2 separate regions of the Homo sapiens genome follow, and region 2 is reported to be linked to region 1. The links are microRNA targets in miRTarBase. Many come from high-throughput screens and were not tested one by one. Region 1 holds a microRNA gene; the other region holds the end of a gene's coding sequence.

Region 1 (3,538 bases):
AAAATCATCTCGACAGTACACAATTGTTCAAAACATAAATAATTTGATGTTATCAAACAGATAAACTTTTAGTGAAACTGACTCTTAATGAGCTGGATGGTGCACCCACTCTCTTCTCTCCTCTCCTTTCCACCTCAATGACTGCACACATGCAGTGTTCATATTGTTACAGTGTTAGCACAGCATGGGATCATTTCCATATGGTTACAATGCTAGCAGTGCACGGGGTCATTTCCATTCTGTTTTGTTTTGATATATGCTCCAAAAAAAATTTACAAAAAATACACAGGAATGACAATTTTGTCATAGGCACTTTATTCAATTCTTTGCATCCCTAGTTATAATCCAAATATTAAACAGTGATCCATCATCAAAAGTAAGTGGGACTTGTCAACACCCTTAGTACTGTCAAGAAATATAGGATTTGTATGAAAAGCTGTTGAATCCAGTCCTCTCCACTATGAAACAGGTGCCCAATGACTGGAACATCCAAGCCCTCGGCCTCCTACCAGCATGGATTGGAAGTCAATACCTTAAACATTTGCAGCTGTGAAACTACTCTCACAGACCCATATAGTTCTCCACCTTAATGAACTTAAAACATAGGTTTAATAAAGTGAAACCAGTCTCCAGTAGAGAGAGTGAATGATTGTGTTAGCACAAGGCAACAACACTGGTTAGTGCCAGAGATCAAATCAAGGCACAAGATGAACATTTCATGACATTTTCCAAGTGTAATTCTCTAAGAAGGCATTTTGTGATGGATAATGTCAAACGTCAGTCAATTCATGTCTCAGTCCTTCTGATTCCCCTGGCACAAACTTGAAGTAGAAACAGGCTGTCTTTTCCTGCTACATTAGCACCCCCAGGCCCAGAATGAATGGGATTTGTCCGTCTCTCCTAGGACAGGGATCTGTTAAGGGAGAGGCAAAGAAGGTAAAACAGGATCCTTGCTACTAAGATTTTATAATGGAGAAAATTCAGAGCAATCGTGTCCAGAACCCATTTCTCTAATTATAGTGTTACAACAGAGAAAGACAAATGTTAATGATAAATGAAGGCAGTGCACATCAAATATGTGAGAATCCACAGAGACTAAGGGAATTAGGACTCACTCAACAAAATGGAAGCATTTTCTGGGTTGGAGAGACATGCCAAGATTCTTAAACTAAGCCAAATTTTTAAACTAAGCTTCATCTCACCTATCTGAGATGGGTGAGTGACAATCACTTAAATACATGTCAGATTGTATGCCTACAAAATCCCTCCAGACTGGCATACAATCTGACATGTATTTAAGAGATTGCCCCTCACCCATCTCAGATGGAAATTTCAAGTCAGATTTGCTAATTATTATGCAGTAAATAAAATAATTTGGAAGGAATCATCTCCAATTAAACCAACTTTGATTAAAAAACAAAAAATAACAAATGTTGGTGAGAACGCAGGGAAAGGGGATGCTTGTACACTGCTGGTAAGAATGTAAATCAGTACAGCCACTATAGAGACAAATATGGGCATTCTTTAAAAAACTAAAAACAGACTTACCATATGATCCAGCAACCCCATTGCTGGGTATATATCCAAAAGAAAGGAAATCAGTATATCAAAGAGATGTCTGCGGTCTCATGTTCATTGCAGCACTATTTATAATAGCCAAGATAGAAAGTCAACCTTAGTGCCCATCAGTAGATATATGGATAAAGAATATGTGGTACATTTACACATTCGAATACTATTTGGCCATTAAAAAAAATGAAATCCCGTCATCAGCAACATGGATGGAACTGGAGGACATTATGTTAAGTAAAACAAATCAGGCACAGAAAGACAAATACTGCATGATCTCACTCATACGTGGGAGCTAAGAACATGCATCTCATGGAGGTAGAAAGTTGATTGCTGGTTACCAGAAGCTGGGAAGAGTGGTGGGGAAAGGAGGAGATGAAGTTGATTAATGGGTACAAAAATATGCTTAGAAGAAATGGTAACATCTAGTATTGGTTAGAAAAGTAGGGTGACTGTAGTTAACAATAATTAGTTGTATTGCTGGAGGAGAGGAATTGGAATGATCTCGACCTAAAGAGGGTGTGAATATGATGACGGATGTCCCAGTTGCCCTGGTTTGATTGTTAAGCCTATGCGTATATCAAAATATTTGTACCCCCCAAATATGTACAACTATTACGTACTACTAATAAAAAAGCATATTGCTCTGAAAAAGTGCTCTAAAAAATAAAGCCTATTTACAAAAAGAATTTGGAGGAAAGAAAACTCCCTTTAAGAAGAAACTAACCCAAGAAAATGGATTTACTTTATGAGGCCAGAGAGGTTAAATGTTGATAAATGCGTGGCTGTCATTGTGTTGGGAGTGTGCAGTGGGAACTGAGCCTGGGTAGAGTGCATCTTCTACCAGTGGGAACTGAGCCTGGAAACCGAATTCTAATTCCAGGCAACGTTTTTGCTTAGAGGGTGGGTAGCTCTCAGGTATTCGTGGTTGGGGTGTCACCGGTATGGGGTATTTTTAGGGGGAGGACAGCCTGGGCCCCAGTCAGGCCTGCATGCCTTAGTTTTTAATGTGTCATCCAGAGATCATACTTATTTTTCCTATGATTTGCTGGAGTTTTTTTTAAAAAGCACTATATTTGCATTATTCAAAATAATCTTTCACTGTGTAATATGCGTACACACACACACACACACATTTTGGGGGTAAAATACGAGAATCCCTTAATTGGGGAAATTTTAGCTGAGTGATAAGGAGATCTGTGAGCCTGCTGTTTTGATGTTTCAAGCAGGAAGGCGTGGCATAAAGAGCTGCTTAGGCGCAACGCTGCTGAAATGGTTTTGGCTAGAAGCTCACAGTGTCTAGTTGTGGCTAAGGAGGGAGGAAAGGGGCGGGAGAAGAACGGACCCAAGCGCCTCCGCCCAGACGGCGCGATAACCCCCTCACCTCCAACCCCGGACCTCAGTGAGCACGTCCTCCAGTCTCAGCCGCCAGGAGGCACTGGGGGCGGGGACGTGGCACAAGATCTTCCCGGAGGTGACCCACGCTCCTCGCGCGCAGGGCGTAAGCCACACACAGATCTTTGGATGGGATCCATGGCGCAATCGCCTGTACTGCCCCCTCTCTGACTTTGCCTGTGGCCAACACAAGACGAACGCAGCCTTTCTAAGGGAAATATGCCGTTACAAACAAGAAGCCTAATTTTGTCTCTAAGACTTGCGCCCCCACGGCTCAGTCTACTTTCCCTCATTACTCCAATTGAATCACAGGTCACAACCAGACCAGGTGGCACGCTCCTTTTGGAGCTTGGAGGTGGCTCTGAAAAGAGCCTTTGGGTTCGGGGCGCCGGGACGCACCTCACTTGGAGCTGGTGTACTTGGTGACAGCCTTAGTGCCCTCGGACACGGCGTGCTTGGCCAGCTCGCCGGGCAGCAGCAGGCGCACGGCCGTCTGCACTTCGCGGGACGTGATGGTGGAGCGCTTGTTTGTAGTGCGCCAGGCGGGAGGCCTCGCTGGCGATGCGCTCGAAGA
Region 2 (3,000 bases), not on the chromosome of region 1:
ATAAAGAAAGTAACCCTAGATCCACTTTTACCTAAAACTCTACCTACCATGAAGGTTTTTGATGCCAAATAATTGGAACTGACATCAAAGATGAAAAGAGAGCCACATGACTCAGGATTAAAGACTGACAACTCAGGCCACACCGCCGTCCATGGTATCTATGGAAATAGGATAATGTTAACTTTTTACATGATGAAAAGTTAACTATTTGCAATTTCTAAATTACTATAGAAACAGAAACATGTGACAGGATAAATGAACACTGCTTGATGACCTTTGACAACCTTTGAAGGTTTTATTACCTAGTCCCTGTATAGAGATAAGAGATGATGGTATTGAGTTTTCTAGGAACCAACTTCTGGGAAAGATTTTTAAAGAAGAAAAATATCTGAGAGAAAAATACAAACTAGAACTGAAACAATGATGCCACTTCCTTTTAAAACTAAGAAGCCTAGTATAAAAGTTTCTTTAGTTACTACCATGTTGTTAGGGGATTGTCTCAGCGTTGTAGGCTTTGCCTGAATTTAAAATCCCATCAAAACTTTTTTGCTCTTAAGCATAAATACAACAAATAGCATACATATAAAATTGTGCCAGTTTAGTAAGTTTTGAAAAGCTTAAAAAAAAACCAAACTCTAATTGTGTTTGTGTGGATGAATTTGCTAACTGATGACAGTAGCTAACCCATTTATGCTGGGGGTTGCAATTTTTTGTGTGAAAAATCAGACCTTGGCAATGACTTTGAGCAGTAGGATGTAAATGACTCCCACAAGCTTAGCATTCCAATAATGGAACACTAGGCATAAATGGGTTAACAAGAATCTTATTTGAAATGTTCTTCTCCCTGCCTTGAAATCTTCCTGGGGTTAAGCATTGCTATCACGATGCTTGGAGAACTGTGATCAAGTCTTCTCTGGCTCAGAGAAACTGTTATTTTTCCCTTGCTTAGTAACGCAGCTAAAAGCATAGGCACAGTAGAGTAAGACATTTAACTAAACCAAATGAGCTTTATTCTTTCAAGCTGAACACCCCAGGCAAAGGCAAATTAGCTTTGCTGTGCACTACTTTTACTTCTTACTGTAAGTGCTGATATCGCTGATTGAAAACTTTCACAAGAAAGGCAGAGCATGCACATGCTTACCAGCAGCACTTCAGCAATCTGAGAGGCACAAGGTAGTGCCAACTTACACAAGTGACAGAAGGAGGAAGCTGATCCTGGAAACTGAGCAGTGGGCTGCTTTTTAAATCCTACTGCCAGTGGCCTTTAAAAGGTCAGTTTCCAATAATATTAGCTCTTTTGGTGCTAAACAGGAGATAATAGGAGACTGCTACCTGCAGGAACCAGTACACACTCAGTGGGGATTTGGTTTGAAGTTCCAATAAAAATAGCATGTTTTTGTGACCAAGAGAGCTGTGAAATAGGCACATTTAAAATACTTAGACCCTGTTATTTTAAAGCTACAATTTTTTTTTGCAAAATCAGTTGCAAAGAGACAAAACAAGCCAGGCAAAGGCAGTAATAGAAAGAGTAGAAGCTGATGAGTCAAAACACTTGAACAGAATTTGAAGCACCAGAGAGTCTTTATCTACTACGGAAAACCTGATTCTGTGGTCTCAGAAACTGATGAATTGTTAAGTCTAGGATACGCAAAGATGCATTTGTTCTAAGCATGAACTCTGGATAATACCTCCTCAATAAAAAGCATTTCTATTAAATGCTTAGTTTAGTGTTTTTGTTCAAGTTATTGGTTAGATAGTATTCCCTTTCTCATCTCCCCTTTTTAAACAGAAGTAGAATACTGTACAATTTAGTGAAAAGACCAAAGTTCAGATAAATTGATAGGAAGGAAAATATTTTATGGCTTATACCAAAGAGTCAGCACTAATGCATAGTCACTGTAAAAACCCAAGTTAAAGTTTAGAAAGTCAGTCAGAGTGGACTGAAATCCTAGGTTAAAGCATATTCATACATAGAAAATTGGCTTCCTGATCTTATTTGAATACTGAAAAACACACATATTTAAATAAAGAGTTCCAAAAAACTCAGATTATTTTAGAGAAAACACAGACTGTTATTGTTAGCTTATCTTAAACTAACCTTCAACTCAGAATTTTCACAATGATCATCATGTTTTATAAGTTTTTGATTAAAAATGTTGGCTTCTGAAGGCTGTATGCCTTACCGACAAAAACAGGCCAATCTGAAAGTATGTTTACCTCTAGTCCAAATAGGCATCAAGAATTTAAAAAATGATATTTAGGTACCAAGTCCAGATTGTAACTCTTGGAATTTTTCTCCTGGAAGCATTTAGTTATATTTCTGTCCCCTTTCAAAATGAACCACCTAGAGAAAAGCAAGTCAGAAAATTGTCTGCCCTCCAGTTGGAGGAAAAATATTAAAGAGAAGTGAAGTGTAATACCCAATAATAGTCACATATTTATCTTTATCTGTATTGAGTTTCTTTTAAACATTTTTAGAACAGTAACAGATGGTTATATTCATAAACTTAAATAAGATTTCCTCCAAGTTCTGGAATATATGTATACAATCTCAAAACACTGTACATATCACTCACTCTCCCTTTAGGAAGAAATGGAAATTAAAGTTAAAAGACTTCCTTGGATACTTCTAAGTAAAAGTAAATGATAATGGAAGGGAACTGAATGAAAGATAAATTCTGAAAAAAGCTAACAAAATCAAGTCCACAGTTTGACTCTTTGTTTCCTTGGAAAGCAACGGAAGCACTTAGCTTGGGTTTGAATATACAGAAAGGGTCATGCAGTGAGTTGCAGGTGGCATGCTATCCTTTCAGAGTTCAAATGCAGGGAACCTGGCTTTTGTGGGGACTAGCAGGTCAGCCAGGAAATATATTGTTCCAGCCATTCCTGAAGAAAGAGAAAGAGGCAAAAGTTATTATACCAAATGACTCCATTTCATAGGATGGTTCTTTTTCCCCCATATCTTTATTGACAAAAAAAGTCACAGCATTTCAGTCTATT

Evidence for each region. Region 1 holds the annotated microRNA hsa-miR-4666a-5p (AUACAUGUCAGAUUGUAUGCC, at 1,235-1,255, shown strand). A microRNA usually pairs through its seed, bases 2 to 8, with sites in the 3' UTR of a target mRNA and lowers its output. Matches are read on the target gene's strand: a 7mer-m8 pairs with bases 2 to 8, a 7mer-A1 pairs with bases 2 to 7 and ends in A, and an 8mer does both.
Region 2: the mRNA of LANCL1 is a reported target of hsa-miR-4666a-5p. Seed matches in the 3' UTR shown: 7mer-A1 at 186-192.

What each region holds. Positions count from the first base shown.
Region 1 is chr1:228,460,849-228,464,386 of GRCh38, forward strand. It overlaps MIR4666A (microRNA 4666a), which reads left to right and starts at 1,226; the gene lies at 1,226-1,304. It also overlaps the pseudogene H2BC27P.
Region 2 is chr2:210,431,678-210,434,677 of GRCh38, forward strand. LANCL1 (LanC like glutathione S-transferase 1) reads right to left here. Exons shown (of 10, transcript NM_006055.3): 10 at 1-2,886. The coding sequence ends at 2,810. The region is part of intron 2 of LANCL1-AS1 (LANCL1 antisense RNA 1); the gene reads left to right. Among named protein-coding and RNA genes, the nearest start is that of LANCL1, 44 kb to the right of the region's middle.